Regions from separate parts of the Homo sapiens genome. Here regions 1 and 2 are each linked to region 3. The links come from fine-mapping of genetic effects on gene expression. A gene starts in region 3. Each other region holds a variant in brackets. All regions are shown on one strand. Distances are between the middles of the regions.

Region 1 (10,443 bases), 230 kb after region 3:
TCGGGAGGCTGAGGCAGGAGAATTTCTTGAACCCGGGAGGCAGAGGTTGCAGTGAGTAGAGATTTCGTCACTGCACTCCAGCCAGGGCAACAGAGCGAAACTCCGTTTCAAAAAAAAAAAAAAAAAAAAAAAAAAATCCACCCAATATAGAAACAAATGACAATTACAGGGATTTGTAAAGCTATTAACATTTCATTGCTCTCCTGGCTCTGTCTCTTCCTAGTTGAGCAGCTTTGGACAAGGTACTTGACCACTCTGTCTCGGTTTCTTCATTTGTAAAATGCAAAATGACAGTAGTTTCATCCTCCTAGGATGACTGTGAAAATTAAATGAGTAAACTTGTAAAACAGTAGCTATTCTTATGACCACTCCAAATTGAAAAATATCAAACAGGTATACCCTGTTCCTCCAAAGTCATGTCAACTTGTTTACTATCAAACAATATACAGTTAGTAATAAAACAAAGGTATGACTTCATGTCCCTTTTGTTACAGAATGAGTGCAATTCATATTGTAGGAATATTGTGCTTTTTACTCAGTTTAAGTGTTGTCATATAGTTGGTCTGAAATGGAGGCACCGAGACACCCTCAGTATGTGTCATTATGTCATCATTATAAAAATCACCCTAGCCCTTGGGCCTGGACTCTTGGTCTCTGTTATGCGCTGAACTGTGTTCCCCAAAAAGGTATGCTGAAGTCCTACCCCCAGTATCTCAGAATGTGACCTTTTTCGGAAATAGAGGCACTGCAAGTGCAATTAATTAAGTCGTCATGCTGGAATAGGGTGGGTCCTCATACAATCAGAAGGGAAAACAGACACGGAGGGGAGATGGCCACGTCGAAGGTGGTGGAGGTTGGAGTGATGTTGCCACAAGCCAAGGAATGTCTGGGGCTACCAGAAGCTGGGCGAGGCAAGGAAGGATTCTTCCCTAGAGGCCTTGGCAGAAGTCAGGCCCTGCTGACACCTTGATTTCAGACTTTGAGCCTCCAGAACTGAGATAATACATTTCCGATGTTTGAAGGCACACCATTTGTGGTGTTTTGTTATAGCAGCCTTAGGAGACTATTACACGCTCCTAGACCAGAAACTAGAACAAAGAGGCAAGTCTCAGGTCAACCACAGAGGCCCTGGTCCTTAGCTACAACGATCCAAATTGTCAGGAAAGCCAGCTTCTGTGTGGAAGATCCTTCCTGTGGGAACTGCTGAGACCTGGTAAGCCAGGTGCTGGCACAGCTGGGCCAGCCCTTTGGGACTAGAAAGGGATAGAATGAGCCCCATAGGCTTTGTCAAAGAGGTTTCCCTGACCACCCTACCTAGAGTGCACCTTCTCCCCCCGCTCTTTGTCCTCTTACCTTGCTTTTTCTTCACAGCACCAGTTCATCTTTGTTTACTGTCTGGCTTCCCAAGTACCACTATATATTTTTGAGACAGGGTCTCGCTCTGTCGCACATGCTGGAGGGCAGTGGTGTGATCTTGGCTCATGGCAGCTTTGACCTCCCAGGCTCAGGCGATTCTCCCACCTCAGCCTCCTGAGTAGCTGGGACTACAGTCGTATGTTACCACATCTGGCTAATTTTTGTATTTTTAGTAGAGACAGGATTTTGCCTTGTTGCCCAGGCTGGTCTCGAACTCCTAGCCTCAAGTGATCTGCCTGCCTCGGCCTCCCAAAGTGCTGGGATTATAGGCGTGAGCCACTGTGTCCAGCCCCCAAGTACCACTTCTACCACCAGAGTGGAAGCTCTATGAAAACAGAGACCACAGATGATAATTTCAAATTTTCTTTAGTGTCCTTTGTATTTTGCACAGGTGATTTAAACATTTTATTTATTTTGTGTCTCCTTGCAGTTTGCAAGTTGTTTTCCTCTTTAATCAGAAAAAGGATATTAAAAACTGTAAGCTTTCTATAAAGTTTTGTTCACAGTTCATATCTCCAGCACATATTAGGTATTCAATGAATATTTGTTGAATGAATGACTAGAATAAATAATGTTATGCTTCTTCTTCTTCTTTTTTTTTTTTTTTGAGGCAGGGTCTCACTCTGTTGCCCAGGCTGGAGTACAGTGGTGCAATCACAGCTTACTGCAAGCTTGAACTCCTGGGCTCAAGTGATCCTCCCTCCTCAGCCTCCTGGGTAGCTGGGACTACAGGTGCATTCCAGCATGCTGGTGTTATGCTTCCTTTATTCTCCATATTTAATTCATCTTTTATTCCTCAACAGTATTCAGCAACTTCTTTTCAGAAACTATTGATTTTTGGCCAGGTGCAGTGGCTCACATCTGTAATCCCAGCACTTTGGGAGGCTGAGGCAGGAGGATCACTTAAGCCCAGGAGTTCAAGAGTTCAAGACCAGCCTGGGCAACATAGTGAGGCCTTATCTGTATAAATTTTGTTTTAAAAAAGAAATTATTGCCAGTCTCAGCCACAATGAAGGAAACCTAGGAAAGGATGTGACCCTACTTGAGCCACAATTTAGAAGGGCATGTCCACCCCACAATCCTCTGAGGTTCCCAATGGCTGGACTGTAATACTTCCCTAGGCTTTCGGTGTAATACTAAGTTTGTTCTACTCTACTAGATATTTTCTTGTCATACGCTCAACTTCAGGCCTCCTTTGGAGGGAGGCTTAAGGGAACATTGGCAGATTCCAACGTATTTAAATAATTAACATGACATTCCTAGCTATTGTTTTATTCATTGATGAATTTTGGAATGTCATTACAAATTGTAAATTTGGACCTAGATGCTGATTGCTTATTTTCAGAAAACCTACAGAATAACCTCAGTAATAAAAACAAAGTGGGCCACGCCTGTAATCCCAGCACTTTAGGAGGCCGAGGCGGGCGGATCACGAGGTTAGGCGACCTAGACCATCCTGGCTAACATGGTGATACCCCGCATCTAGTAAAAAAAATATAAAAAATTAGCCAGGCGTGGTGGCACACGCCTGTAGTCCCAGCTACTCGGGAGGCTGAGGCAGGAGAATCGTTTGAACCCGGGAGGCAGAGGTTGCAGTGAGCCAAGATCGCACCACTGCACTCTAGCTCTGGGTGACAGAGCAAGACTCCATCTCAAAAACAAACAAAAAAACAACAAAGAAATGGGCCCTGCGTAGTGGCTCACGCCTGTATCCCAGCACTTTGAGAGGACAAGGTAGGTGGGTCACCTGAGGTCAGGAGTTCAAAACCAGCCTGACCAACGTGGTAAAAATACAAAATTACTACTAAAAATACAAAAATTAGCTGGGCATAGTGGCAGGCACCTGTAATCCCAGCTACTCAGGAGGCTGAGGCAGGAGAATCACTTGAACCCAGGAGATGAAGGTTGCAGTGAGCTGAGATCACGCCACTGCACTCCAGCCTGGGCGACAGAGTGAGACTGTCTCAAAACAAACAAACAAACAAGCAAAAAAAAAAAAAAAAAGAAACCCGAAAAACAAAGAAGCCTAAAAACTCAGGGTAAGTGTAGAGCTTGGGACTCTGCTAAGACTCAACAGTGCCCTAGAGGATAGCCATTCAGTATTATCATAAATCCTCAAGTCTTCCATTTTGCCATCCTTAAAACAACTGTTTCTGAGCACAGGGACACTGGCACATGAATGAACGAATGACTTCAGTTTGTCCTCAACTGTCTTGCCAATCAGGCCAACCTTAAAGCTACAGAAGGAGATTGTCCTGAATTTCCCTGAGAGCCAACGGCACTAACAACTGTTAAACCAGAAGAATAAAAACCCAAATATTGGCACACACTCCCCAAACATGTTGTCCAGCAGTTGAAAGCCAAGGACAGGAACAGGCAATGCCTGCCAGCTGTTCCAGGGGAAAGGGTCCAAACTGATCTTAGACTCAGCTTTGCTTGAGTTCAGCCCGAATTGCTGGAGAAGATCCACCAACCTTCCAGTGGCCTAAGATTGATCCAAAACTGGCAGTCACCGTTCCCCAAAGGTGATACTATTATTTCAGCTCTCACAAGAAAACCCATGTAACTGGAAGATGAAGAACAAAAATCAGGATAACACAAGATTCTGATTGTCTTGTCTAATGTACAGGATTTGGAATCAGGCTTCTATATATGGAAACCATGTGTGTCTAGAGCCTTAAGTTTCATGCAAATTCCTGTAAAATGATCACTGATCAGATCATCTGTAAAAATGTGGAATCTGGATTAGACGATCTCTCAGGCCACTTCCAGCTCGAAACTCTGACTTGCTATCTCTATATTCTTATAGGGTTTTCTTGCTCACTAAGTTTTTAGGAAAATAATAACTGAGAAAATAAAAATTTAATACAGTCATACAGTCATCTCAGGATACATTCTGAGAAAATCATTGAGTGTACTTACACAAATCTATATAGTATAGCCTACTATACACCTAGGCTATCAGGTAAGGCCTTGATATGGTTTGGCTGTGTCCCCACCCAAATCTCATCCAAATCTCATCTTGAATTGTAGCTCCCATAATCCCCACGTGTCATGGGAGGGACCTGGTGGGAGGTAATTGAATCATAGGGGGAGTTTTTCCCATACAGTTCTCACGACAGTGAATAAGTCTGCACGTGCTTTCTTGCCTGCCACCATGAAGATGTGCCTTTGCTCCTCCTTCACCTTCCACCACGATTGTGAGGCCTCCCCAGCCATGTGAAACTGGATCCATTAAACCTCTTTTTCTTTAAAAATTACCCAGTCTTGGGTATTTCTTCATAGCAGTATGAAAATAGACCAATACAGGCCTATTGCTCCTAGGCTACAAACCTGTACAGCATGTTACTGTACTGAATAGTGTAAGGAAATCATCACACAATGGTAAGTATTTGTGATAGAAATTTTTCAGCTCTATT[G/A]TAACCTTAGGGGATCACTGTCGTCTATGAGGTCCATCATTGACTGAAACTGTTATGCAGTGCTTAACTGTATTATGTGACAAAATGTGTATAAGTAATTTTATTTAATTAAGAGTAGAAGCTCTCCCGCAGTGTTCTCATATACTCTAAACTCTAAAATTATCATTCTACTCAGTATTGCTGATCTCTTCATTGAGCTTGTAAACAAACACCTACACAGAACAGAACTAATTAATTTTAATCTAAATCCATTTTCTTTTGTACAAAGGAGGCTTTTTCCCCAAGATTTGTTTCAATCCTTTAGCCTAAAATGATAACGCCCTATATTTACCTAGCGATGTTAACTTTTCAAAGTCCGTTCTTTTCTACCATCTCTCTAGAATGTAGGCTCCTAAGAGTACTACTGTCTTCTGGACAATGTCCAGCACACAGAAGGTGCTCAGTGAGTCCCAGCTGAAGAAAGTGAATATGATGCTCACAAGAACTCCCTGGGTAGACAACGGTCTCATCACTAACCCCTTACTTGACAGATTTAGGTACGGAGGCACGGGAGCCAGATGAGGACATTAACCAAAGATACCCACATGCCAGATATTAGTTTGGATTGGATTTTTTTTTTTTTTTTTTTTTAAGACAGAGTCTTGCTCTGTAACCCAGGCTAGAGTACAGTGGCATGATCTCGGCTCACTGCAACCTCCACCTCCTGGGTTCAAGCAGTTCTCTGCCTCAGCCTCCCAAGTAGCTGAGATTACAGGCTTCGGCCACCAGTCCCGGCTAATTTTTTTGCATTTTTAGTAGAGATGGGGTTTCACCAAGTTGGCCAGGCTGGTCTTGAACTCCTGACCTCGTGATCGACCAGCCTCGGCCTCCCAAAGTGCTGGGATTACAAGCATGAGCTACTGTGCCCGGCCGATTGGATCATTATTTTTAAAAAAATCTATAAAAGATGGTCATGGGGGCCGGGCGCGGTGGCTCATGCCTGTAATCCCAGCACTCTGGGAGGCTGAGGCAGGCAGATCACTTGAGGTCAGGAGTTTGAGACCAGCCTGGCCAACATGGTGAAACCCCGTCTCTACAAAAAATACAAAAATTAGCCGGGCCTGGTGGCAGTCACCTATAATCCCAGCTACTCAGGAGGCTGAAGTAGGAGAATCACTTGAACCCGGGAGGCAGAGGTTGCAGTGAGCCGAGATTGTGCCGCTGCACTCCAGCCTGGGGGACAGAGTGAGACTCTGCCTCCAAAAATAAAAAAAAGATCATGGGATAATTGGGGGTATGTTAATATTGAATTGCCCATTCTATGTTATTAGATATCATGAAACTATTATTGTTATTATTTATTTTTATTTTTGTAGAGATGTGGTCTTGCTGTGTTGCCCAAGCTAGTCTTGAACTCCTGACCTCAAGTGATCCTCCCACCTTGGCCTCCTAAAGTGCTAGGATTACAGGCATGAGCCACTGCGCTGGGCCTATTTCTTGAGATGATAACGTTGTTGTGATTACTCAGTATAACGTCCTTATGCTTAGGAGATGCATGTTGTGACTGTAATATTTACAGGTGGTATCATGATATGTGAAATGAACTTTCTATTGGTTCAGTAAGAAAAAAAGAGATAAAGCAAATATTGAATTAATAAAATGTTAGTATTATCTGCATCTATATGGAGAATAAATGGTATTCTTTGTACTACTCTTTCAAGTTTTTAATTAAAAATTGGGAAACAGGCCGAGTGCGGTGGCTCATGCCTGTAATCCCAACACTTTGGGAGACCGAGGCCGGCAGATCATGAGGTCAAGAGATGGAGACCATCCTGGCCAACATGGTGAAACCCCGTCTTTACTAATAAATACAAAAAATTAGCTGGGCGTGGTGGTGCACTCCTGTAGTCCCAGCTACTCGGGAGGCTGAGGCAGGAGAATCGCTTGAACTAGGGAGTTGGAGGTTGCAGTGAGCTGAGATCAGGCTCCTGCACTCCAGTCTGGGCAACACAGCGAAACTCCGTCTAAAAAAAAAAAAAAAGAATTGGGGAACACAAGCAACGAAGAAACCACAGCAGAAAATCGTATGTCTGACTATAAGAAAACTTTAATCTTCTCTAATTATGGTTAATTTGGGTGGTAGGACTATATTGGACTATTCTTTTCATCTTTTTCTAAATTTTCCACGTGAGCAGATATTTATAATAAAATATTTTAAAATTCAAATTATGTAGCAATATGAGATAAACCTTCAATACCTTTCTAGAAACACATTGTGGCAGATTGGGTTTTTTTTTGAGATAGGGTGTCACTCAGCTTGCCCAGGCTGGAGTGCAGTGGCATGATCTTACCTCACTGCAGCCTCGAGCTCCTGGGCTCAGGTGACTCCTACATTAGCCTCCCCAGTAGCTGGGACTACAGGTGCACACCACCAAGCCTGGCTAATTTTTTGTATTTTTAGTGGAGACAGGTTTTGCCATGTTGCCCAGGCTGGTCCCAAACTCCTGGTCCTACAGACGTGAGCCACCACACCCAGCCTTGTATTTTCTAAAGATGGTTGCACCTGTATATTTATTACTACATGCATCCTACATGCCTTTTCTATGATGAGTCTGACACTTCTCCCACAGAGACGTTGGATCTATGTTTCTTCTCTTTGAATCTAGGCAGGGACTTGGTTTTTGTTTTGTTTTGTTTTGTTTTTGTTTTTGTTTTTTTTTTGAGACAGAGTCTTGCTCTGTCGCCCAGGCTGGAGTGCAGTGGCGCGATCTCGGCTCACTGCAAGCTCCGCCTCCCGGGTTCACGCCATTCTCCTGCCTCAGCCTCCCGAGTACCTGGGACTACAGGTGCACACCACCACGCCCGGCTAATTTTTTGTATTTTTAGTAGAGACAGGGTTTCACCATGTTAGCCAGGATGTTCTTGATCTCCTGACCTCGTGATCTGCCCTCCTCGGCCTCCCAAAGTGCTGGGATTACAGGCGTGAGCCACTGCACCCAGCCGGGACTTGTCTTATGATTGCCCCAGTATTGAAGTTTGGCAAAAAGTCACAAAATATGTGACTTTGAAGGCTAGGTCATAAAAATGAAGAAACCTCCATTTATTTTTCCTTCTCTCTTGGGATCCTTACCCTTAGAACTCAGCCATCACATAGTAAGGAGACTCAGGCCACAGACAGGTCTAGTGAGGAATTCTGGCTGACATCCTCAGCTAGTCCCCAGCCATGAGCAAGCATCAGCTGCTGTCATGATCCTGAGTGAATGATCCCTCAGAGTCCAGGCGCCAGCCTTTGAGTCTTCCAGCTGATATCCCTGACAATGTGGGTCAGAAACCAGCCATCCATTCTACGCCTGGTGTGAATTTCTAACCATGGAAACGGTGCGAGATAATACACGATGTAACGCATGATTGTTGTACTTTAAGCCACCCCATTTTCGGGTGATTTGTTATGCAGCCATAGTAACACGCGGGGACAGTGAAGTCCTCTAAGGTGAAAAGTGTGTTTGCTATTGGTTTAAGAAAGCGAGTGCCACTCACGGGGAAGAAGAAGTGTCTTGTAAATTATCACTAATCTCCTCAGATGTCAATGAATCAGATACTGTAAATTATCCTTACTCTCCTCAGATGTCAGCGAATCAGATACTGTGTCTTGGCCAGGTGCGTTGGCTCACACCTGTAATCCCAGCACTTTGGGAGGCCAAGGTGGGATTGCTTGAGGCCAGGAGTTTCAGACAAGCCTGGGCAACATAGCAAGACCCTGTCTCTACAACAAAATTTAAAAATTAGCCGGGCATGTACCTGTAGTCCCAGCTACTTGGGAGACTGAGGCAGGAGGATTGCTTGAGCCCAGGAGTTTGAAACTGCAGTGAGGTATGATCTCACCACAGGACTCACTCCAGCCTGGATGACAGAGTGAGACCCTGTCTCAAAAAAAAAAAAAAAAAAAAAAAAAAAAATATATATATATATATATATATATATATATATATATATATAAAATCTCTTTTCTGAAAGAAGCATTTAAATGTTGAAAACACATTATCTGCTTATTCTAGAACCCAAAATGGGCATTTTTTTTGTTTTTGTTTTGAGACAGAGTCTCACTCTGTTGCCCAGGCTGGAGTGCAGTGGCACAGTCTCGGCTCACTGCAACCTCCACCTCCTGGGTTCAAGCAATTCTCCTGCCTCAGCCTCCCAAGTAGCTGGGACTACAGGCGAGCGCCACCATACCCGGCTAATTTTTGTATTTTTAGTAGAGATGGGGGTTTCACTATCTTGGCCAGGCTGGTCTCGAACTCCTGACCTCGTGATCCACCAGCCTCAGCCTCCCAAAGTGCTGGGATTACAGGTGTGAGCCACCGTGCCTGGCCCAAAATGGGCATATTTTTAGAACCTAGACTATTGAGCTTGTCACTTTTTCTTACAATGTGCCACATTCTGCACCAATGATGCAGGAAATTAACAGCTAGATGTTCTTAGTTCTCCCTCTCCGTGGCGGTTCTGAAGATAGGCGGTGAAAGTGGACTGTTCCTCAGAAGCAAAAACTCTCCAGTGTTTCTGATCCATTAGTTCCGTAGCAATGTATGAGTTTTCATAACTATGGTTATGTATTTTGGTAAGCTGCTATCTTCATGCAACAGTCAATTTCACTGAACTTCATTTCCTCTAAGTATGTTAGATTACATATTTCACAATGTATTATTTGAAACAAACCAATCTCATTGAAAAACCCAGTTGAGAAGCTTCATGAATAATTTAACTGCTTGCTTTTCCTCTCAGATTTCACACATTTTGCCACGTCATTATTTAAGGAAACTTTCTCATATTGTAATACTTCCTCTTTTCTATTCAAAGAAATTGTAAACATATCAGCAAAAAGGGAACCACAGTTTTATCTGGAACACTAATATATTTAGAGTGAACAACACTGCCACCCTAAGATTTCCCAGTAACCTAGATGCATTTTGCTGTACTCAAGCAGGCTGATATGATTGCAGTTTGGGGAAAAATTTATATTATATAGAGTGTGGTTTCTTTTGGAGTGGTTTGCTAGTTTCTCCAATGCTGTTTGTCATATATGTAAAAGTAAAAACAGTTGGTATTGTGTAGCAGTATAGAATACTACCTATGTTCTCTCTCTATATATATGCCCCAGAGAACCATTTGTTTCCATTCAGAGTGATAAGGTTATACAAGACCTACTTGGCCATGCAAGACAAGTTCTTTTCTTCATTTCTGTCTACAAATTCAGATCATTTCTCCATAGTTCAAGATAGCTATCTATCCTTCAAAGAATGGTACAGGCCAGGCATGGTGGCTCACACCTGTAATCCCAGCACTTTGGGAGGCTGAGGCCGGTGGATCCCTTGAGCCCAGGAGTTCGCGAGCAGCCTGGGCAACATGGCAAAACTCTAGAAAAATATAAAAATTAGCTGGGCATGGTGGTGCTCACCTGCAGTCCCAGCTACTTGGGAGTCTGAGGTGGGAGGATCACCTGAGCCTGGACTGGTTGAGATCACGCCACTGCACTCCAGCCTGGGTGGAGACCCTGTCTCAAACAAACAAACAAAAAACAAAAAACAACACAAAGAATGGTAGAGAGAGCTGTAAAAGTAAAGAATCTATGAAG
Region 2 (9,832 bases), 32 kb before region 3:
ATTCATGTAACCTGTGTATAAAGTTTCTTCCCCATAGTTATAGTATGTACACTTTTTTTTTTTTTGGCTATTTTCTTCACTTTGCCTAATTTCATCCTCATATTCCTTTTTTCTTTTTTTAAGAGAGGGTCTCACTCTGTTGCCCAGGCTGAAGAGCAGTGGTGAGATCACAGCTCACTGCTGCCTCAGTCTCCTGGGCTGAGGCAATCCCCCCACCTCAGCCTCTTGAGTAGCTGGGACTATAGGCGCATGCCACTATGCCTGGCTCATTTTTGTAGTTTTTGTAAAGACAGGTTTCTCCATGTTTCCCAGGCTGGTCTCAAACTCCTGGGCTCAAGCCATTCGCCCGCCTTAGCCTCCCAAAGCGCTGGGATGACAGATGTGAGCCACTGAGCCTGGCTGTAACCTTTCTTTATTCATTAGACATTTGGGTTTTCTACCTTTCTCTCTATAATAAATGAATACTACTGTAAATATTATTGTACAGATAGACCTTTATTTTGAACTATTATTATTATTATGATTTTAGACACAGAGTCTTGTTCTGTTGCCCAGGTTGGAGGGCAGTGGTGTGATCATAGCTCACTGCAGCCTAAAACTCTTGGACTCAGGTGATTCTCCCACCTCAGCCTACCAAGTAGCTGGGACCATAGCTGCACGCCCCCACGTCTGGCTAATTTTTTAAAATTTTTGTAGAGACAGGGTCTCCCTATGTTGTTGCTCAGGCTGATCTCAAACTCCTGGGCTCAAGCGACCCTTCCACCTCCGCCTCTCCAATTGCTGGGATTACAGGCGTGAGCCACTGCACCTGACCTTGAACTTTTTACTTAGAAATACATTCAGAGGTTTTTGGATTACTGAATAAGGGGTAAGATTGTTTTAAGGCTCTTGTTTTATTATTTTCCTTCAAAAAGACGGAACCCCTGTAATAAACTGGTGACACCAGTGATGTTTACACGTCTGTATCCAATACTTGACCAGCACTGGGTTCATTATCACCTCCATTTATGCCGGTAGGTGTAAAATGGTACATGATATAATTTTAAATTTAATTTCTTTAATAACTGGAGAGGAAGCAAGCCTTCCTACCCTGTGATTTTAAGCATCTAAAAGGAAGCTTCATGTGGTAGACTTGCTCTCATCATATCACACTGCTAAACAAGGATCTACAGCGCCTAATTCTGTTAGATTCAAATCTAAACATAACACATAGTTGATGCTAAATGTCTATTTCATTGCTTTATGGCTTCTAAAATCTGAATATTTCCCCAACGGAGAGTAATCTGAGGTATTATGCATCATATATATATATATACATTTTTTTTGCAACAATGTCTTGCTCTGTTGCCCAGGCCCTGGCGTGCAGTGGCACTACCATAGCTCACTGCAGCCTCCATCTCCTGGGCTGAAGCTGTCCTCTTGCCTCAGCCTCTCAAGTAGCTGGGACTACAGGCATGTACCACCAGGACTGGCAATTTTCTTAATTTTTATTTTTCATAGAGACATCTCACTATGTTGCCCAGGCTGGTCTCTAACTCCTGGGTGCAAGTGATTCTCCTGCATGGCCTCCCAAAGTGCTGGGATTACAGGCGTGAGCTGCCACGCCCAGACCAGTTTTTCCATCTTGGACTCTCAGCTCCAAATTCCCCCTTTTGGACTACTCTGTGAAAATGGATCTGGACCTTTAAATATTTTTTTCCCGGGCTAGCTAGCACTGAAATCTTGCCAGTAGAGGGTGATAGAGAGACACGGGAGAAGGAGAAGAGGTTGACTTGCCTCTGGGTTCCAGGGTGCTCACTGGGTGGTTCCCCCAGTGCCCCGCTCCTACAGTGACTGCAGCCAGCAGCACCCAGGAGACGGAACCTCCCCGCCCAGCCCGGCGCCCGCCAGCCCTGGTGCCGTTTTTATAGCAGCATGCCTCTAGCAATCAAGACACCTGGCACCTCGGAGGGCCGACTTCCAGAAGGATTTGCCACAGGGCACCACAACAACTTCTCTGCCATTCAGAGTCACAGCTGCACAGGTCTGGATCTCCGCCTGGGGCCGGCGTGGGGGCTCTCTCAGTCCTGGGGCTGGTTCACTGGAGTTTTCTTTCTTTGTTACTAGCCAGCCCCTCATGGCTGTAATCCCTTGCTCTAGTAAATAATTCTTTATATTGAATTTTCTCTGTTCAAATTACTACGTGATTTCTCTCTCCGGACTGGACTCAGACTGATACAAGTATGGACCCCCTAGAAGGAACAACAAATGGAGCTGCCGTCTATATACACACGTGAGATGGAATTCGTGTTTTAGATCCTTTCCAACACCTGGCTGTCTCAGAGGGCGGAGGACACGGGTCCCACCTCACACGTGGCAGCCGGCCCTGGCGCAGGCACCTGTTCCCAGCTGAGGCAATCAGAACCCACCTGGGATTTTTTTTCATCCTCGAAGCCAACTTCTCTCCCTTAAACTAAAGCAGAAAGAGTGTGAGGATGTGACTTCAGAACTGCCTGCTCCATCCCTTGCCCAGGGGGAGGCTTAGAGTCTGATGGGGCTGGGCACCGTGGCTCATGCCTATAATCCTAGCACTTTGGGAGGCTGAGGCGGGCAGATTGCTTGAGCCCAGGTATTTGAGACCACCCTGGGCAACATGGTGAAGTCCTGTCTCTACAAAATATATGAAAAATTAGCCAAGCGTGGTAGTGCGTGCCTGTAGTCCCAGCTTCTCAGGAGGTTGAGGTGGACGGATGGCTTGAGCCCGAGAGGCGGAGGTTGCAGTGAGCATGCCGTGGCACTCCAGCCTGGGCGACAGAGCAAGAGTGTGATGGACTCGAAGATGAGAGATGGCAAAACAGAGAGAGACTCCTAATGTCATCTCCCACCCTTTTAATGAGACAGGATCTGCCTCTGTCACCCAAGCTGGAGTGCAGTGGCACAATCACAGCTCACTGCAGCCTCAACCTCCTGGGTCAAGTGATCCTCCTGCCTCAGCCTCCCAAGTAGCTGGGACTACAGGCATGTGCCACCATGCCTAGCTAATTTTTTAAATTTTTTTAGAGATGGGGGTCTCACTGTCACTCAGACTGGAGTGCAGTGGTGTGATCATAGTTTACTGCAACCTCAACTTCCTGGACTCAAGTGATCCTCCCACCTCAGCCTCCTGAGTAGCTGGGACTATAGGCATGTACCACCGCACCTGGCTTATTTTTTAATTTTTGGTGGAGAAGGAGTCTCCCTTTGTTACCCAGGCTGGTCTCCAACTCCTGGGCTCAAGTGATCCTCCTGCCTCAGCCTCCCAAAGTGCTGGAATTACAGGCATGAGCCACCACGCCCAGCCCAAGGCCGTCTTTGTGTTTCCAAATATTTTCAGACCAGTTTCGGTCTTTCCCCACCTATATTGTGGGGGAAAAAAAAGTAAAATGAAAAAATAAATTTTAAAATTAGAATTAAATGAAAAAACTAAAAAGTAAAAAAAGGGTATTCAATATCACATTGATAATTTACTCAATAATGAATCTTTTTATTTTTTCTTACCTAACCTAGGTCGATTTAGGTCTCTGTCTCTGGCAACTGAAAAGAGACCCAACAAAACATCTTACAGAGCACCAGGGCCAATTCTTGATGCGTCGTTAGATTCTGTGTAGCCAGAAAGCAGAAACAGAAACATATCCAAGCCAGGCGGAGGAAAAACTTTGAGGCCTGTTTATCCAGGTTCAAGACAATTTCTATTTAAAAAAAAAAAAAAGAAAAAAAGAGAGAAAAAAAAAGCTCATAACAGAATAAGTTCAGCTTCTCCTGAGTGTCAGAGCTAAGATCTAACGCCTCTGCTGGTTTCCATGACAACCACCAGCAGCTACAATCATGCCGAACCAAGAACCAGAGGATTCAGTAACTTTACCTTGATTCTGTGGCCAGATTATTGCCAATTTTAAAAGGAAATGCATAGTGAGCCCCTGTCTCTGTTGTGTCTTCAGTTGTCCCTTGAAATCTGGATATCTTGACAAGAGGCCAGGGCCTATCCTATCTCATCTCCCCAAGCTAGTGTCCTTCCCAGATGAATTTCTTCTGGCGCTGGTGAGATTACTTGGTGACCTAGTTCCGACTACACAAGTTATGCTGTCGTGATTGCTGGGGGTAATTGCTCAAAATAGCTCTCTGATTTGTTTCATAAACAGGCTCTGTGGCAGGCTCATGTCGTTTTTTCCCCAAAGAAGAGATTCCAGAGACGAGGCCTTCACTGAGAGCTTGCTCCTCTACCTCCTGTGGGTTTCAGGGCTGGGACGGGGGACACAGAGAATCTGTCTCTCGCGAATGCCAAGTTGAGGTCCTAGCCTGGCTAGGAACTCTTGCATTCCCCTTGCCTCGCTGTAGCCTCCCCTGGGAACAGACCTTCCAGGAGGGTCGCACCGAGTGATGAGACTGTTGCATGAGGCTCTGCAGTGCTTGGACACAGAACTGCACTGCGGCCTTCCAGATGCTCAGCTGGAAAACCCCTGAGAACCTGAGGCTTTTCTACAGCACATTAGAGCTTATGACTGGAGAGTGTCTACCGCCTGAGGGCAGGGATGAGATTTTACCTATCCTATTCACCTGCTTAGGTGCCCACTTCATCCTAGACTCCCTTCTTTTCCCTCCCTCCCTTCCTCCCTCCCTCCCTCCCTCCCTTCCTCCCTCCCTCCCTTCCTTCCTCCTTCCCTCCCTCCCTCCCTTCCTTCCTCCCTCCCTCCCTCCCTCCCTCCCTTCCTCCCTCCCTCCCTCCCTTACTCCCTCCCTCCCTCCCTCCCTCCCTTACTCCCTCCCTCCCTCCCTCCCTTCCTCCCTCCTTCCCTCCCTCCCTCCCTCCCTTCCTTCCTTCTCTTTCTTGCTTGCTTGTTTGCTTGCTTGCTTGCTTCAGGGTCTCACTCTGTCACTCAGGATGGAGTACAATGGTGCAAACACAGCTCACTGCAACCTCGGCCTCCTGGGCTCAGGTGATCCTCCTACCTCAGCCTCCCAAGTAGCTGGGATTACAGGTGTGTGCCACCAACACTTGGCTAATTTTTTCTATATTTTGTAGAGATGAGGTCTCACTATGTTGCCCAGCTGGTTTCAGACTCCTGGGCTCAAACAATCCTTCCTCCTTGGCCTTCCAAAGTGTTAGATTACAGGTGTGAGCCACCTTGCCCAGCCTTTGATACACTTCTTGATTGAAGGAAGAGAGCCAACTTTTATTGAGTACCTATTATGTGCCTGGTGCTTGCATGCATGTCATTACTTTGGAGGCAGTATTGCAGAGTGCTCACAGGCAAGAACTCCAGTATCAGAAAGACCTGGACTTAAATCTCAGTTCTCCCACTTACAGTACTAGCTGTGGAAACTTCACTTGTTACTTAACTTTCCTGAGCCTCAGTTTTCTCATCTGTAAAGTGGGAATAATAATAAATCACCTCGTCAGGTTGTTATGAAGATTAAATGAGATCATGTGTATAAAGCACACAGTAAACATTCAATAAAGTTAGCTATTATTATTCCAGTTATTAGCAGCCACAAGATATAGGACATTGTTATACAGGAAGTTTAAATCTTGAAAAGGAAAAGTTCTAGAATGTATAAGCCTGAATATAGCATCTCCTCAAATACTGTTTGGATCAGTGAAAATGCTATTGCCCATGGTGACTCACACCTGTAATCCCAGCACTTTGGGAGGCCGAGGTGAAAGGATCACTTGAGGCCAGGAATTGGAGACAAGTCTGGGCAATATAGCAAGACCCTGCCCCTACCAAAAATTAAAAAATTAGCCAGGTGCCATGGTGCACACCCGTAGTCCTAGCTACTTGGGAGGTTGAGGTGGAAGTATCACTTGAGCCTGGGAGGTCAAGGCTTCAGTGAGCTGTGATCATACCACTGCACTCCAGCGTGAGTGACAGAGCAAGACCCTGTCTCTAAGAGAAAACTAGAAAGTGCCATAGTCTGAGTTGTTGTGGGAAGTCCGGGACTCCGAACGGAGGGACCGGCTGGAGCCGCAGCAGAGGAACATGAATTGTGAAGATTTCATGGACATTTATCAGTTCCCAAATAATACTTTTATAATTTCTTATGCCTGCCTTTACTTTAATCTCTTAATCCTATTATCTTTGTAAGCTGAGGATGTACATCACCACAGGACCACTGTGATAACTGTGTTAACTGTACAAATTGATTGTAAAACATGTGTTTGAACAAATATGAAATCAGTGCACCTTGAAAAAGAACAGAATAACAGTGATTTTTAGGGAACAAGGGAAGACAATCATAAGGTCTGACTGCCTGCAGTGTCGGGCAAAAAAGAGCCATATTTTTCTTCTTGCAAGTAGGAGAGATATCACTAAATTCTTTTCCTAGCAAAGAATGTTAACATTAATACCCTGGGAAAGGAACGCATTCCTGGGG[G/A]GAGGTCTATAAACGGCTGCTCTGGGAATGTCTGCCTTATGCGGTTGAGGAAAGGACTGAGATATATACCCTGGTCTCCTGCAGTACCCTCAGGCTTATTAGGGTGGGGAAAAACTCCGCCCTGGTAAATTTGTGGTCGGACTGGTTCTCTGCTCTCGAACCCTGTTTTCTGTTGTTTAAGATGTTTATCAAGACAATACATGCATCGCTGAATATAGACCCTTAACAGTAGTTCTGCTTTTGCCCTTTGCCTTGGGATCTTTGTTGGACCCTTATCAGTAGTTCTGCTTTGCCTTTTGTCCTGTTCCCTCAGAAGCATGTGATCTTTGTTCTGCTTTTTGCCCTTTGAAGCATGTGATCTTTGTACCTACTCTCTGTTCTTACACCCCTTCCCCTTTTGAAACCCTTAATAAAAAACTTGCTGGTTTGAGGCTCAGGTGGGCATCACGGTGATATGTGATATCACCCCCAGCGGCCCAGCTATAAAATTCCTCTCTTTGTACTCTTTCTCTTTATTTCTCAGCAGTCTGACACTTATAGAAAATAGAAAGAACCTACATTGATATATTGTGGGTGGGTTCCCCCGATATCAGTGAACTGCCCTTGGTGCTCGGCTGGAGACTGTATATTCCGTGCTTACCATGTGCTGGGCATGGTGCTTGGCTGGAGACTGTATATTCCATGCTTACTGTGTGCTGGGCATGGTGCTCGGCAACATGGTCCATGACCTTATGAAGTTTAAAATCTTGTTGCGGAGACAAGGCCAACAAACATAACATTAATCAGCAAATCAAGGCAGGACGCATTGCTGAACTCTACTTCTGGTAGCAAGTGCTACATGAGTTAAGAGGGAAAAGTAATAACTCAGCACCCGTTATGCTCTAGCTCCTGGATTGGAAACACCACCTTATTTAAGTTTTCATTAATTCTATAAGGTAGACTGGGTGTAGTCATGTAAGGCATGAAGAAACTCTGACTCAGCGAGGTTCAGTGACTTCCCAAGGACACACAATTACTAAGTGGCTGAGTCGGAACTTGAGCACAGCCTCCTGGCTCTGAAACCCTGCCAGAATACATTCTCCCAAATCAAAGCAAGTATCATCAATTTTGTTTTATTTTCTTTCTTTTTGTTGTTGTTGTTTTGTTTTGTTTTGTTTTTTTGAGACAGGGTCTTTCTCTGTTGCCCAGACTGGAGTGCAGTGGTGCAATCATAGCTTACTGCAGCTGTGAACTCCTGGGCTTAAGCGATCCTCCCACCTCAGCCTCCCGAGTACTTGGGACCACAGGTGTGCACCACCACGCCCGGCTAATTTTTCAAAATTTTTTCATAGAGATGGGGTCTCACTGTATTGCCCAAGCTGGTCTCAGACTCCTGGCCTTGAGGGATTCTCCTGCCTCAGTGTCTCAAAGTGCTGGGATGACAGACATAAGCCACCATGCCCAGCCCATCAATCTCATTTTCTACAAGAGGAAGCAGGAGGTCAGCGAGGTAAGGGACTTGTCAGAGGCACGGAAATAGTAGCGGGCTGAGCTGGGGTTTGGGTGCAGGCCTGTCCATCTCATGATCTCATGATCGAGGATGCCTCTTACAGCCTGTCATGGGTACCCTTCCTTCTACCAGGCGAGGGACCTGGCAGTGCTGCATTGAGTCTCTGGAGCTCATTTGACAGATAAAGAAACTGAGGCCTCCAGAGAGGCTTTTTCTAGTCTAGCCTCCTCACTGTCAGTCACACCCATTTGCCTTGGCTTGGCTGCCCCACACCTGCCAGGCTCCCTCTGCACCCGCGCCCCCTATATTCAAGCTCACCTACAAAACCCACCTGTTCCTCAAGACCTGGGCTGTCGCAGCCTCTCCAGCTCCACTTGGGGACCTGGGAGCTCCTGAAAACGTGTTTTCTTGGTTTTGTTTTTGTCTTATTTTGTTTTGCTTTGAGATAGAGTCTCGCTCTGTCGCCCAGGCTGGAGTGCAGTGGCGCGATCTCGGCTCACTGCAGCCTCCACCTCCCGGGTTGAAGCGATTCTCCTGCCTCAGCCTCCTCAGTAGGTCTCAGTAGCTGGGATTACAGGCGTGCGTCACCCGCCCGGGAGCGTGTTTTTAAGTGTTCAGGTACTATAGCAATGAACATGGATCATTGTCCATTTCTTGGCTCCTGGTAGCACTCAGTCAATGTTTGCTGAAGTGATGGGAAAATCAATGAATAAGCCACAGCACCGGCAGCCAGGACAGGATCCTGCTGAGGACTCAGACCAGGGGCGCCGCCTCTTGCTCGCAGCGCAGGGGAACGAGCCTCACCTTTGACCTTGTCTCAGCAGCGCCACCTCGTGGTTTCCAAAAGGAACAGCATCATGCTGGGCGCAGGGGCCCTGCCCTGCGGTGACTGAAAGGCGTGTGTGTGTGTGTGTGTGTGTGTGTGTGTGTGTGTGTGTGTAGGCGTGTGTGTGTGTGTGTGTGTGTGTGTGTGTGTGTCTGTGTGTGTGTGGTGAGGAGGGCCCTGCGCCTTGCCTGTCAGCTTTATGGAGGTGCCCCAGCTCGCTGGAGGAAAAGAATGCTGACCAGTGGCCCGAAAGGATTTTCCCGAATCCACTGGGAATGGGAAGGATCCTGTCAAAAATCCAAAGGGAAATGATACAACCAGGAAGCCTTGGTGCCCTTACAGGAACAGACAAGCCCCTTTCCCACGCTGTCATGTGGCATGAGGACACTCTCACAACCACAGTCACACACCCGGGAGCCCTGCCTGGCTTCAGCTGCCCGACATCCCTCGGGAGTCAGAGCAGAGGCGCACACGGAGGGCTCCGGCCTCCAGAGCGTGGCCCAGCGGCCGCAGGGGAAGGGGCAGAAATAAGCCACCTTCTCTCCAGAACGCTGAGCAGCTCAGGAAGCCGCTCGGGAAAGCACCTCTCTGATCCAGCCCCGAAGGCAGTGCCTTCTTTCTGCCCCTGCTGGGTCAAGGTTTTCTCAGCCACACCCTAATCCAATCGGTATTCGCAATCCAACTATCACATGTTTGTTAGGGGTTTTTTGTTGTTGGTTTAAATCTTTCTTTTTTTTTTTTTTTTAAGAGATGAGGTCGGCCGGGCGCCATGGCTCATGCCTGTAATCCCAGCACTTTGGGAGGCTGAGGTGGACGGATCACAAGGTCAGGAGTTGGAGACCAGCCTGGCCAGTATGGTGAAACCCCATTTCTACTAAAAATACAAAAATTAGCCGGGCGTGGTGGTGCACACCTGTAGTCCCAACTACTCGGGAGGCTAAGGCAGGAGAATCGCTTGAACCCAGGAGGCAGAGGTTGCAGTGAACCGAGATCACGCCACTGCACTCCAACCTGGGTGACAGAGAGACTCCATCTGAAAAAAAAAAAAAAAAGAGAGAGAGAGATGAGGTCTCGCTCTGTCCCCCAGGCTGCAGTGCGCTGGTACAATCACTGCAGCCTCGAGCTCC
Region 3 (10,443 bases):
CCACAATGAGATACCATCTCACACCAGTTAGAATGGCAATCATTAAAAAGTCAGGAAACAACAGGTGCTGGAGAGGATGTGGAGAAATAGGAACACTTTTACACTGTTGGTGGGACTGTAAACTAGTTCAACCATTGTGGAAGTCAGTGTGGCCATTCCTCAGGGATCTAGAACTAGAAATACCATTTGACCCAGCCATCCCATTACTGGGTATATACCCAAAGGATTATAAATCATGCTGCTATAAAGACACATGCACACGTATGTTTATTGTGGCACTATTCTGTTGCGGGAAGTCAGGGACCCTAAATGGAGGGACTGGCTGAAGCCATGGCAGAAGAACGTGGATTGTGAAGATTTCATGGACATTTATTAGTTCCCTGAATTAATACTTTTATAATTTCTTATGCCTATCTTTACTGCAATCTCTAAACATAAGTTGTGAAGATTTCATGGACACTTATCACTTCCCCAGTCAATACCCTTGTGATTTCCTATGCCTGTCTTTACTTTAATCTCTTAATCCTGTCAGCTGAGGAGGATGTATGTCACCTCAGGACCCTGTAATAATTGCATTAACTGCACAAATTGTACAGCATGTGTGTTTGAGCAATATGAAATGTGGACACCTTGAAAAAACAACAGGATAACAGCAATTGTTCAGGGAATAAGAGAGATAACCTTAAATTCTGAGTGCCGGTGAGCCGGGCAGAACAGAGCCATATTTCTCTTCTTTCAAAAGCAAATGGGAGAAATAACACTGAATTCTTTTTCTCAGCAAGGAACATCCCTGGGAAAGAGAATACGCACCTGGAGGTATAGGCCTATAAACAGCCCCCCCCCAGGTGCACCTGTCTTTTATGGTTGAGACTGCAGGGGATGAAATAGACCCTAGTCTCCCATAGGGCTCCAAGGCTTATTAGGAAGAGGAAATTCCCGCCTAATAAATTTTGGTCAGACCAGTTGATCTCAAAACCCTGTCTCCTGATAAGATGTTATCAATGACAGTGGTGCCCGAAACTTCATTAGCAATTTTAATTTTGCCTCGGTCCTGTGGTCCTGTGATCTCGCCCTGCCTCCATTTGCCTTGTGATGTTCTATTACCTTGTAAAGTACTTGATGTCTGTGACCCACACCTATTCACACACTCCCTCCCCTTTTGAAAATCCCTAATAAAAACTTGCTTGTTTTTGCGGCTTGTGGGGCATCACAGAACCTACTGACATGTGATGTCTCCCCCAGACGCCTGGCTTTAAAATTTCTCTCTTTTGTACTCTGTCCCTTTATTTCTCAAGCTGGCCGACACTTAGGGAAAATAGAAAAGAACCTACGTGAATATCGGGGCAGGTTCCCCAATACTATTCACAATAGCAATTCTTGGAACCAAGCCAAATGTCCAACAATGTTAGACTGGATTAAGAAAATGTGGCATATATACACCATGGAATACTGTGCAGCCATAAAAAGATGATGAGTTCATGTGCTTTGTAGGGACACGGATGAAACTGGAAACCATCATTCTCAGCAAACTATCACAAGGACAAAAAACCAAACACCACGTGTTCTCACTCATAGGTGGGAATTGAACAATGAGAACACATGGACACAGGAAGGGGAACATCATACACCGGGGCCTGTTGTGGGGTGGGAGGAAGGGGGAGGGATAGCATTAGGAGATATACCTAATGTTAAATGATGAGTTAATGGGTGCAGCACACCAACATGGCACATGTATACATATGTAACTAACCTGCACGTTGTGCACATGTACCCTAAAACTTAAAGTATAATAAAAAAAAGATTTATCATGTATTCTTAACATTTTGTGTGCATATACATACATTGTTTTGTCTTAAATATACTCTTGTAATGTTAGGAAATTTGGAAGATTTTCCGTGTCACTATACACAGTTTTGTTTTGTTTTTTTTTTTTTAGAAACATAGCCTTGCTCTGTTGCCCAGGCTGCAGTGCAGTAGTGTGATCATGATTTACTGTAACCTCGAACTCCTGGGCTCAAGCAATCTTCCCACCTCAGCCTCCCAGGTAGCTAGGACTACAGATGCACATCACCACACCCAGCTAATTAAAAAAAAAAATTTTTTTTTTTTTTTTTTTTTTTTTTAAGAAATGGGGTCTTGCTACATTGCCTAGGCTGGTCTCAAACTTCTGGACTCAAGTGATCCTCCTGCCTTGGCTTCCCAAACTGCTGGGATTACAGGCGTGAGCCACTGTGCCCAGCCTACTTCATTCTTTTGTTTTTGTTGTTGTTGTGTGTTTTTTACCTAGAACCACCTGAATAGTCATTCTTCATTCTTTATAGCTGCACAGTTCCTATTGAATGAATAGGACACCATAATTTATTTAATAATTCCTCTGATAAAGGACATTTCAGTTATTTCTACTTTTTGTTATTACAAAGCAATGCTGCAATGACCATTATGTTAGTCCATTTTTGCGTTGCTTTAAAGGAATGCCTGAGGCTGGTTAATTTATAAAGAAAAAAGTTTATATTTTGGCTCATGGTTCTGCAGGAAGTACATCAAGTGTAGTGCCAGCATCTGCTTCTGGTGAGGCCTCAGGAAGCTTCCAATCGTGGCAGAAGGTGAAATGGAGCCAATGTATCACATGGTGAGAGAGAGACCAAGAGAGAGAAGGATGAGTGCTCTTTCAACTACCAGCTCTTGTATGAACTTATGCAGAGAGAACATACTCATTATCCTGGGGATGGCACCAAGCCATTCATGAGGGATCCACCCCCATGACCCAAACATCTCCCACCAGGCCCCACCTCCAATGCTGGGGATTACATTTCAACATGTGATTTGGGGGGGCCAAACATCCAAACCATAGCAAGCATGCTTCCCAAAAAACAAAATATATATATATATATATATATATATATATATATATATATATATATTCTGTTTTTTTAGGGTTTTTTGTTTTCTTTTGTTTTTATTTTCTTTTTAGAGACAATATCTCACTTTGTCACCCAGGCTGGAGTGTAGCTCACTATAACCTCCAACTCCTAGGTTCAAGCAATCCTCCTGCCTCAGCCTCCCAAGTAGCTGGGACTAAAAGTGCATGCCACTGTACCTGGCTCTGTAAGATTATTTTTTAGTGACTGTTTACTCCACTAGAATGTAAACTTCTTGAGGGCAGGGGCTTTATTTGTTGCCATATCCCCAGTACTTTATTCCTAGTGCCCAGTATATAGTTAAGTGTTTAATAAATACTTGAATGCTTACTACTTTACACCCACCAGATGGACAAGCATGAAGTCTGAGAATACCAAGTGCTGACAAGCACGTAAAGCAAGAGGATTCTTGTATCCCGCTGAGAGCGAAAATTAGTGCATGTGCTTTAAAGAGCAGTGAGATAACTCAAATATGGATATTCTAGCACCAACCATTTTCATTCCTGACACATATTCAATACACTTTCGCACAGGTGCTTTAGGAGAAAGGTACAAGAATTTTATTGTAGCATTCTTTGTATTATATTGCACAAAAGCACTATACAACATTGTACAAAAGCATTGTAGAATTTGGTGTATTTCTCTCTCTCTCCCTCTCTCCACACACGTATCACAGACATTTTTTTTTATTCTGAATCATTTGGGAATAAGTTCACGACATCATGACCAAATAAGAAAGCTGCAGGATTGACATTTACAAAATATTCAAAATATGCAAAACGGTACTATAATATTTATAAATACATACATATATAACAAGCAGAAAGATAGGAATAGGAATAATAAACACTAAATTCAGGCAAGTGGCCGTCTTGGGGACGCAAAAGGAAATGTGTTCAGGAATGAATACCTGGAAGCCTCGCTATCTGGAATATTTTTCTTAAGCTGTGTTGAGGGTACATATTTGTTATTGGCTGTACCTTTTTTGCAAGACATATATTTCAAAATTTTTAAAAGCATTCATTTATTCCTATTTTAATGAGAGTTTTTAAAAATCAGGAATGGGCTGGGTGCAGTGGCTCATGCGTGTAATCCCGACCCTTTGGGAGGCCGAGGTGGGTGGATCACCTGAGGTCAGGAGTTCGAGACCAGCCTGGCCAACAAGGTGAAAACCCATCTCTACTAAAAACACAAAAATTAGCAGGGCGTGGGGGCGCTCCCCTGTAATCCCAGCTACTCGGGAGGCTGAGGCAGAATCGCTTGAACCCAGGAGGCGAAGGTTGCAGTAAATCGAGATCGCGCCACTGCGCTGCAGCCTGGGCGACAGAGTGAGACTCCATCTCAAAAACAGAAAAGAGAAAAGAAAGGGAAAAAAGGGAAGAAAGAAAGGAAGAAAGCAAGCAAGCTCAAGGGTTCTCGGGGTGGGCCATCCCCGAGGCCATCCGCAGATTTTCTCGCACTCTTTGCTCCACCCCCACGTGCAACAAGGACAACCGGCTGCCGCCTCCAGCTTCCAGCAGGGCTAGAAGATGCGCTGCCCGGGGCGGCCAGAGCCCTGCAGAACAAACCGCCGCACGGAATTAGGGGCCGCCGTCCGCGCCTGCCAGGCTTGGAAGCGGACTCGCCCCCAGGGCCACCGCCCTAGGAAACCTCCCGTCGGAAGCCTCCCAAGCAAGCCGCTCACCCGCGGCTCCCGCGCGAGGCGGCGTGGGCGTGGGCGCGGCCCTGGCGCGGCGGCGCGCGCGGGGTGAAGGGAGCCCGGCGCGCTGGCTGCGGCGACGGCGGCCGTTGCTGCGCCGGGTACTGGGGTCGCTGCCTGAGGCGCAGGCGCCGTGGACTCCACCCGCCCCGGGGCCTGGGCTCGCTGTGGACTCGTCATGGCGACCGAGCAGAGGCCTTTCCACCTGGTGGTGTTCGGCGCGTCTGGCTTCACCGGCCAGTTCGTGACCGAGGAGGTGGCCCGGGAGCAGGTGGACCCGGAGCGGAGCTCCCGCCTGCCCTGGGCCGTGGCGGGCCGCTCCCGGGAGAAGCTGCAGCGGGTGCTGGAGAAGGCGGCCCTGAAGCTGGGTACAGCGGCGGGGCGGGACGGGGCTGCGCGGGCGGCTGGGCCGGGGACCCCGCATCGCCCCAAACGAGCGTTTCTCCCGCAGGGATGCGCCCTACGTGTCCCCGAGCCCTGCGTGAGGACAAGAAGAGGAGAGGGAGAGATGTTTCAAATACTGCCATAGCTTTGTCCCACCTCCTTAACTATATGTGTGTGTGCGCGTGCGTGTATAATATACACACACATTTTTTTTTCTTTCCTTCTCCTCTTTCCCGCTTTTTGCATTTCTGCCTCAGTTTGGGGAGCTCCCCTGGCGAAATGGTCAAGAACTTGAGTTGTCCCTCTCTCTGCTTCATCCTGCCCCGCAGCGGGGGCACCTGTTGAATCTGCGGGTTTCTAGATGTTTGGTCGGAGAGGAGAGGAGGGCTTTGGTCTCTTGGAGATCGGAGTCTCCCTTTGCCTCGTGTTTTGAGGACGGGAGAGCAAGCTTACGAGTTGTACTGACAGTGTCTTTGTGGCTATTCTGTTTTAGTTTCTTGTTTTGTGTGTAAGAATACTCCAGCAGTCTTCCTCTTCAGAGAATAAAAAGTGTGTATTTCTGGTTTAGACGCTTACGTATTCTCTAAGCATTCAGGTAGCATGTATTTATTGATAATCTAAGCATTCAGGTAGCATATATTTATTGATAATCTAAGCATTCAGGTAGCATATATTTATTGATTCTCTAAGCATTGAAGGAGCATATATTTATTGAGTGACGTTGTCCATGCTAAGACCTGTCCCGAGTCTGGGGTGCAGGATGGGACAGAGAGGAGACAGACACACGGATCCTGCTGCCTTCATGGCTGGGGAGACATCTGACTTACGACTCCGTAGCCTTTAAATTTGGCTATTAACTCCCGTAGATTTCCCTTATACAGACACCCATTAGAGTTCTGGAAATACTACATTCTTTCTGTTTAATCTACTTTCATACAATGCCCTGCTCGGAGTGCTTTTGTTCGTGGTTATGTACAGAAGACACCACGTAGGCTGGACTCTCCTACAGCTTTTGGTGCTGACACTACCAACACGTAATTCTGACCAAAGAGCTTTTTGGTCGTTATTTTTCCAACAGAAGTAATTTTACTATGAAAATATATGCTTCCATTTCTTTTTTCGGCTCAGCAAGATCGTACCGGTACAGCCTAGTCACTTATCATATATAATGCCCAAATCAAGTTTCATTGTGGGGGGATATACCTTCACCTATTGAAACCTGCATCACTTAGTTGAGCCAGTTAATTCCAATTATTTTCTTATGAGCCTGTGTGTGTTTATATAGCGTGTGCTTTTCACCTCAGAGTTCTAATTTTTTGTTTTTTGTTTGTTTGTTTGCCATTCTCCTGCCTCAGCCTCCTGAGTAGCTGGGACTAGAGGCGCCCGCCACCACGCCCTGCTAATTTTTTTAGTAGAGACGGGGTTTCACCGTGTTAGTGAGGATGGTCTCGATCTGCTGACCTCGTGATCCACCCTTCTCGGCTTTCCAAAGTGCTGGGATTACAGGCGTGAGCCACTGCACCCAGCCCTGATGGTTTTGATGTTAACAGTCAGTCCGAAACTCTCCATCACCTACAATTGGATCATAGTAATTGTTTAGTGGTTGATGAGAAACTTTATTTTTTTAAAGACAAGTTCTCATTCTGCCACCCAGGCTGGAGTACAGTGGCGTGATCACAGCTCACTGCAGCCTTGACCTCTGTGTCTAAGTGATTCTACCGCCTCAGCCTCCTGAGTAGCTGGTACTACAGGCTATGCCACCATGTCAGATAATTTTTTTTTTTTTTTTAGTAGAGACAAGGTCTTGCTATGTTGCCCAAGCTGGTCTGGAACTCCTGAGGTCAAGAGATCCTTGCACCTTGACCTTCCAAAGTGCTGAGCCACTGCCCCTGGCCAAGAAACTATTTTATGACATAAATTTCTTGTTGGAGAGGAAGTCTGGATAGTTATCTGCTCAGCATTTAAACTTGATTGTGAAATTGTCATGTTACACAGGGTTGTTATTTACACAACGCTTTGATTCGATTTTTTTTAAAAGGTCAGTTTTTTAGTAACTCTTAGTGTTAACTCAGTTTTCCTCATAATTTTTTCCTTTTGTATTACCTGATTAAAAACAGTTTTATCTTTTGTCTAAGCAGGAGAGCTAGCTTTCAGCATATCAGTGTATTTAGTAATTTGCTGTCACTGATTACTGTAAAAAGAAGATAAGGAAGATATAATCCTCTACTGGGATTTACTTTCCTTCATTTGTTTCTTATTTTAGGAAGACCAACACTGTCATCTGAAGTTGGAATCATCATCTGTGATATTGCTAATCCAGCCTCGCTTGATGAAATGGCTAAACAGGCAACAGTTGTCCTCAATTGCGTAGGACCAGTAAGTAATCAACCCTTCTTTGTATCAGAACAAACAATCCATTCATTTCTAGCAAAATATTCCAGAGGAACATAAGGACAGAGGACAGAATTGTTGGTTGAAGGCCTTAACCCCATATGGGGAGTTTTTTCTTCTTGCGAGGAGCAGCTGGAGATGACCAAAGTCTCCTGAGAGAGTGAGTGACAGGCTCTCCATGACGTTCTCCTTAGGGCATGTGTGCTGGCTTGTTGATTGGTTACATCTGTGATTGTCAGAATTTTCTTTCCTTTTTACTATATACCCCTTCGGTAAAAAATGTTTGAGTGTGTCTCCCTAGTATATTTTTTATTTATAAATTATATTCTTGTACTACTGGGTAAATATATTTTTTAAATGCACAAAAAGAAGACTAAAAAACGACTCATTTATTGAATAAATATTTATTGATGCTTACCACATGTGAAATGCACTATTGTAGGCACCTGGGACACAATGGTGAACAAAACAGAAAATCCCTCGTGGACATTACGTTCTTGGGGAAGACAGAAAAATAGGATTGTAATAGGAGGTAATGAAAAGTGCTTTGAAGAAAAGTGAAGCCAAGAAAGGAGAAAAGGTCCTGGCATATTGGTGTTTTTAGATGGATGGTCAGGGAAGGTTTCTGTGAGGAATTGACATTTGAGCCAAGATCTGAATGAAATGAGAGCAAATTGCATGAACCTTTTGAGGAGAGACTTTTCCAGGGACAGCAGGCACAAAGGTCCTGAGATGCCAGTGTGCTTGGCAAGACTGAAGAGTGTGACAGAGGCCAGTGTGGCTGGGCATGGCAGAGAGGTGGAGAGTGGATCAGAGAGCAACCCGGGAGCTGGGTCATGTGGGATCTTACGGGCCATGGCCAGGATGTGGATTTTTTTTCCAGGTGTGACCAAGAGGCGTTGAATGGTTGAAAGGAAGGGCTTCAGCTGATTTAAATTGGAAGTTCTTTGGCTTCTGAGTGGAAAAGTAGATAACAAAGGATGAGCAATGGAATGGTGCAAGCACAAGCCCTGGGGTCGTAGTGGTGCTGAGAAGTAGTTAGGTCCAGAGTATATTTTCAAAGGAGAACGGCTTTTGCTGTTGTACTGTGAAAAAGTCATCAAGTCACAGGCCATCAGACTTTTGGCCTGTGTAACAAGGTGAATGTTGGTGACATTTAGTGATCTGAAGAAGCCATCACAGTTGGCAAGATGTTTAAAAATTAAATATCTAAAATATTAATAATTTTTAATTGAGAGCAAAAGGGTTTTTGAATTGCTATTAAATAGAAGTGTTGTTGATTTAGATTCATCTCATTCTTAACTAGCTTAGATTCCATCCATGAGGTCCACTGCTGCACTCTATAATGGACGCCCTCATCTATCTCCCTTGCCTTTTTCTCCTCAGTACTCTGGAAAAATCCCAGCCCTGGTTATTCTCTGCCTGCTCTTCACCTGAACATGAGTAACACAGTGTGGCTGGAGAAAAATGTATCCCCCTGCTAACTGGTCACACTTCAAATATGTGTTTACAAACGTTGTGTGGTGCTTAGCACCTCCGGCAGCTCTGCTCTATTTCCCTCAGGAATTCTCTCTCCTGCTCTCTGAAGCAGCTCACAACCTTGTTTTCCTTGAACTTTTAGTATCCCGTCTCTCTTTCCTTGTTCTTATCTGATTTTATTTTTCTTTTTTTTTAACTATGAAAATAGAAGCTGGTTAATAACAGAATTTCTTTCTTCATCTTCCTACCACCAGATCTATCTACCTACCTACCTGTCTGCCAATCTGCATCATACCCTGTAGTCTGCCATATCTCTTGTTACAAGGAAAAACTGGTCCTCTTCCTATTGGGCACAGTTTTCAAAGACTTTATTATCGGGGGAACCAGCCCCCAGTATTTCAACATAGGTTCTTTTCTATTTTCCCTAAGTGTCAGCCAGTCTGAGAAATAAAGAGAAAGAGTACAAAGAGAAATTTTACAGCTGGGCCTCTGGGGGTGACATCACTTGTTGACAGGTTCCGTGGTGCCCCTTGAGCTGCAAAACCAGCAAGTTTTTATTAGGGATTTCAAAAGGGGAGGGAGTGTACAAATAGGGAGTGGGTCACAGAGATCACATGCTTCAAAAGGCAATACGGTATCACAATGCAAATGGCAGAGCAAGATCACAAGGCCAGGGCAAAATTAGAATTACTGATGAGGTTCCATGTCCCGCTGGGCACGCACTGTCATTGATAAACATCTTAACAGGAAACAGGGTACGAGAGCAGACAACCAGTTTGACTAGAATTTGCCAGACTGGAATTTCCTAATCCTAGCAAGCCTGAGGGTGCTGCAGGAGACCAGGGTGTATTTCATCCCTTATCTTCAACTGCATAAGACAGACACTCCCAGAGCGGCCATTTTAGAGACCTCCCCCTGGGAATGCATTCCTTTCCCAGGGTTATTCCTTGCTGGGAAAAGAATTCAGTGATATTTCTCCTATTCGCTTTCTGCAAGAAGAGAAATATGACTCTCTTCTGCCCAGTCGCGCAGGCAGTCAGACATTATGGTTATCTCCCTTGTTCCCTGAAAATTGCTGTTATCCTCTTCCTTTTTTAGGATGCCCAGATTTCATATTGTTCAAAGACACATGTTTTACAGTTTGTACGGATAACTCAATCATCACAGGGTCCTGAGGCAACATACATCCTCAGCTTACAAAGATGACAGGATTAAGAGATTAAAGACAGGCATAGGAAATTATAACAGTATTGATTGGGGAAGTGATAAATGTCCATGAAATCTTCACAATTTATGTCCAGAGATTGCAGTAAAGACAGGTGTAAGAAATTATAAAAGTATTAATTTGGGGAACTAATAAATGTCCATGAAATCTTCACAGTTTATGTTCTTCTGCCGTGGCTTCAGCTGGTCCCTCTGTTCGGGGTCCCTGACTTCCTGTAACACTTTATGTTTACAATTACACATTATCTTGTTATCAAATTTCTCCTCTTTACTGGATTATTTCAATCAGCATTTAAATATGTGATATCTCCCATATTTTAAAAAAAGCTGCTTGATTCCACATACCCT

Evidence for each region. PIP is the estimated chance that this variant, and not a neighbour inherited with it, causes the effect. A credible set is the group of variants that fine-mapping cannot tell apart.
Region 1: its variant is the best candidate, but not a certain one, in a credible set for the expression of SCCPDH in whole blood (TOPMed, PIP 0.61).
Region 2: its variant is the best candidate, but not a certain one, in a credible set for the expression of SCCPDH in whole blood (TOPMed, PIP 0.73).

What each region holds. Positions count from the first base shown.
Region 1 is chr1:246,950,542-246,960,984 of GRCh38, forward strand. All of the region lies in intron 6 of ZNF670-ZNF695 (ZNF670-ZNF695 readthrough (NMD candidate)), which reads right to left. It also overlaps a transcript of ZNF695 not described here. Among named protein-coding and RNA genes, the nearest start is that of AHCTF1, 24 kb to the left of the region's middle. The variant G/A (reference allele first, on the strand shown) is at 4,836.
Region 2 is chr1:246,687,943-246,697,774 of GRCh38, forward strand. It overlaps LOC102724382 (a long non-coding RNA gene), which reads left to right. Exons shown (of 3, transcript XR_949364.3): 2 at 2,211-2,272; 3 at 3,526-4,587. Among named protein-coding and RNA genes, the nearest start is that of SCCPDH, 32 kb to the right of the region's middle. RefSeq lists an enhancer at 1,892-2,412. The variant G/A (reference allele first, on the strand shown) is at 6,391.
Region 3 is chr1:246,719,628-246,730,070 of GRCh38, forward strand. SCCPDH (saccharopine dehydrogenase (putative)) reads left to right here and starts at 4,782. Exons shown (of 12, transcript NM_016002.3): 1 at 4,782-4,985; 2 at 7,265-7,377. The coding sequence starts at 4,796. RefSeq lists an enhancer at 4,216-4,375 and silencers at 4,586-4,715, 4,756-4,825, 4,926-5,135, 9,866-10,066.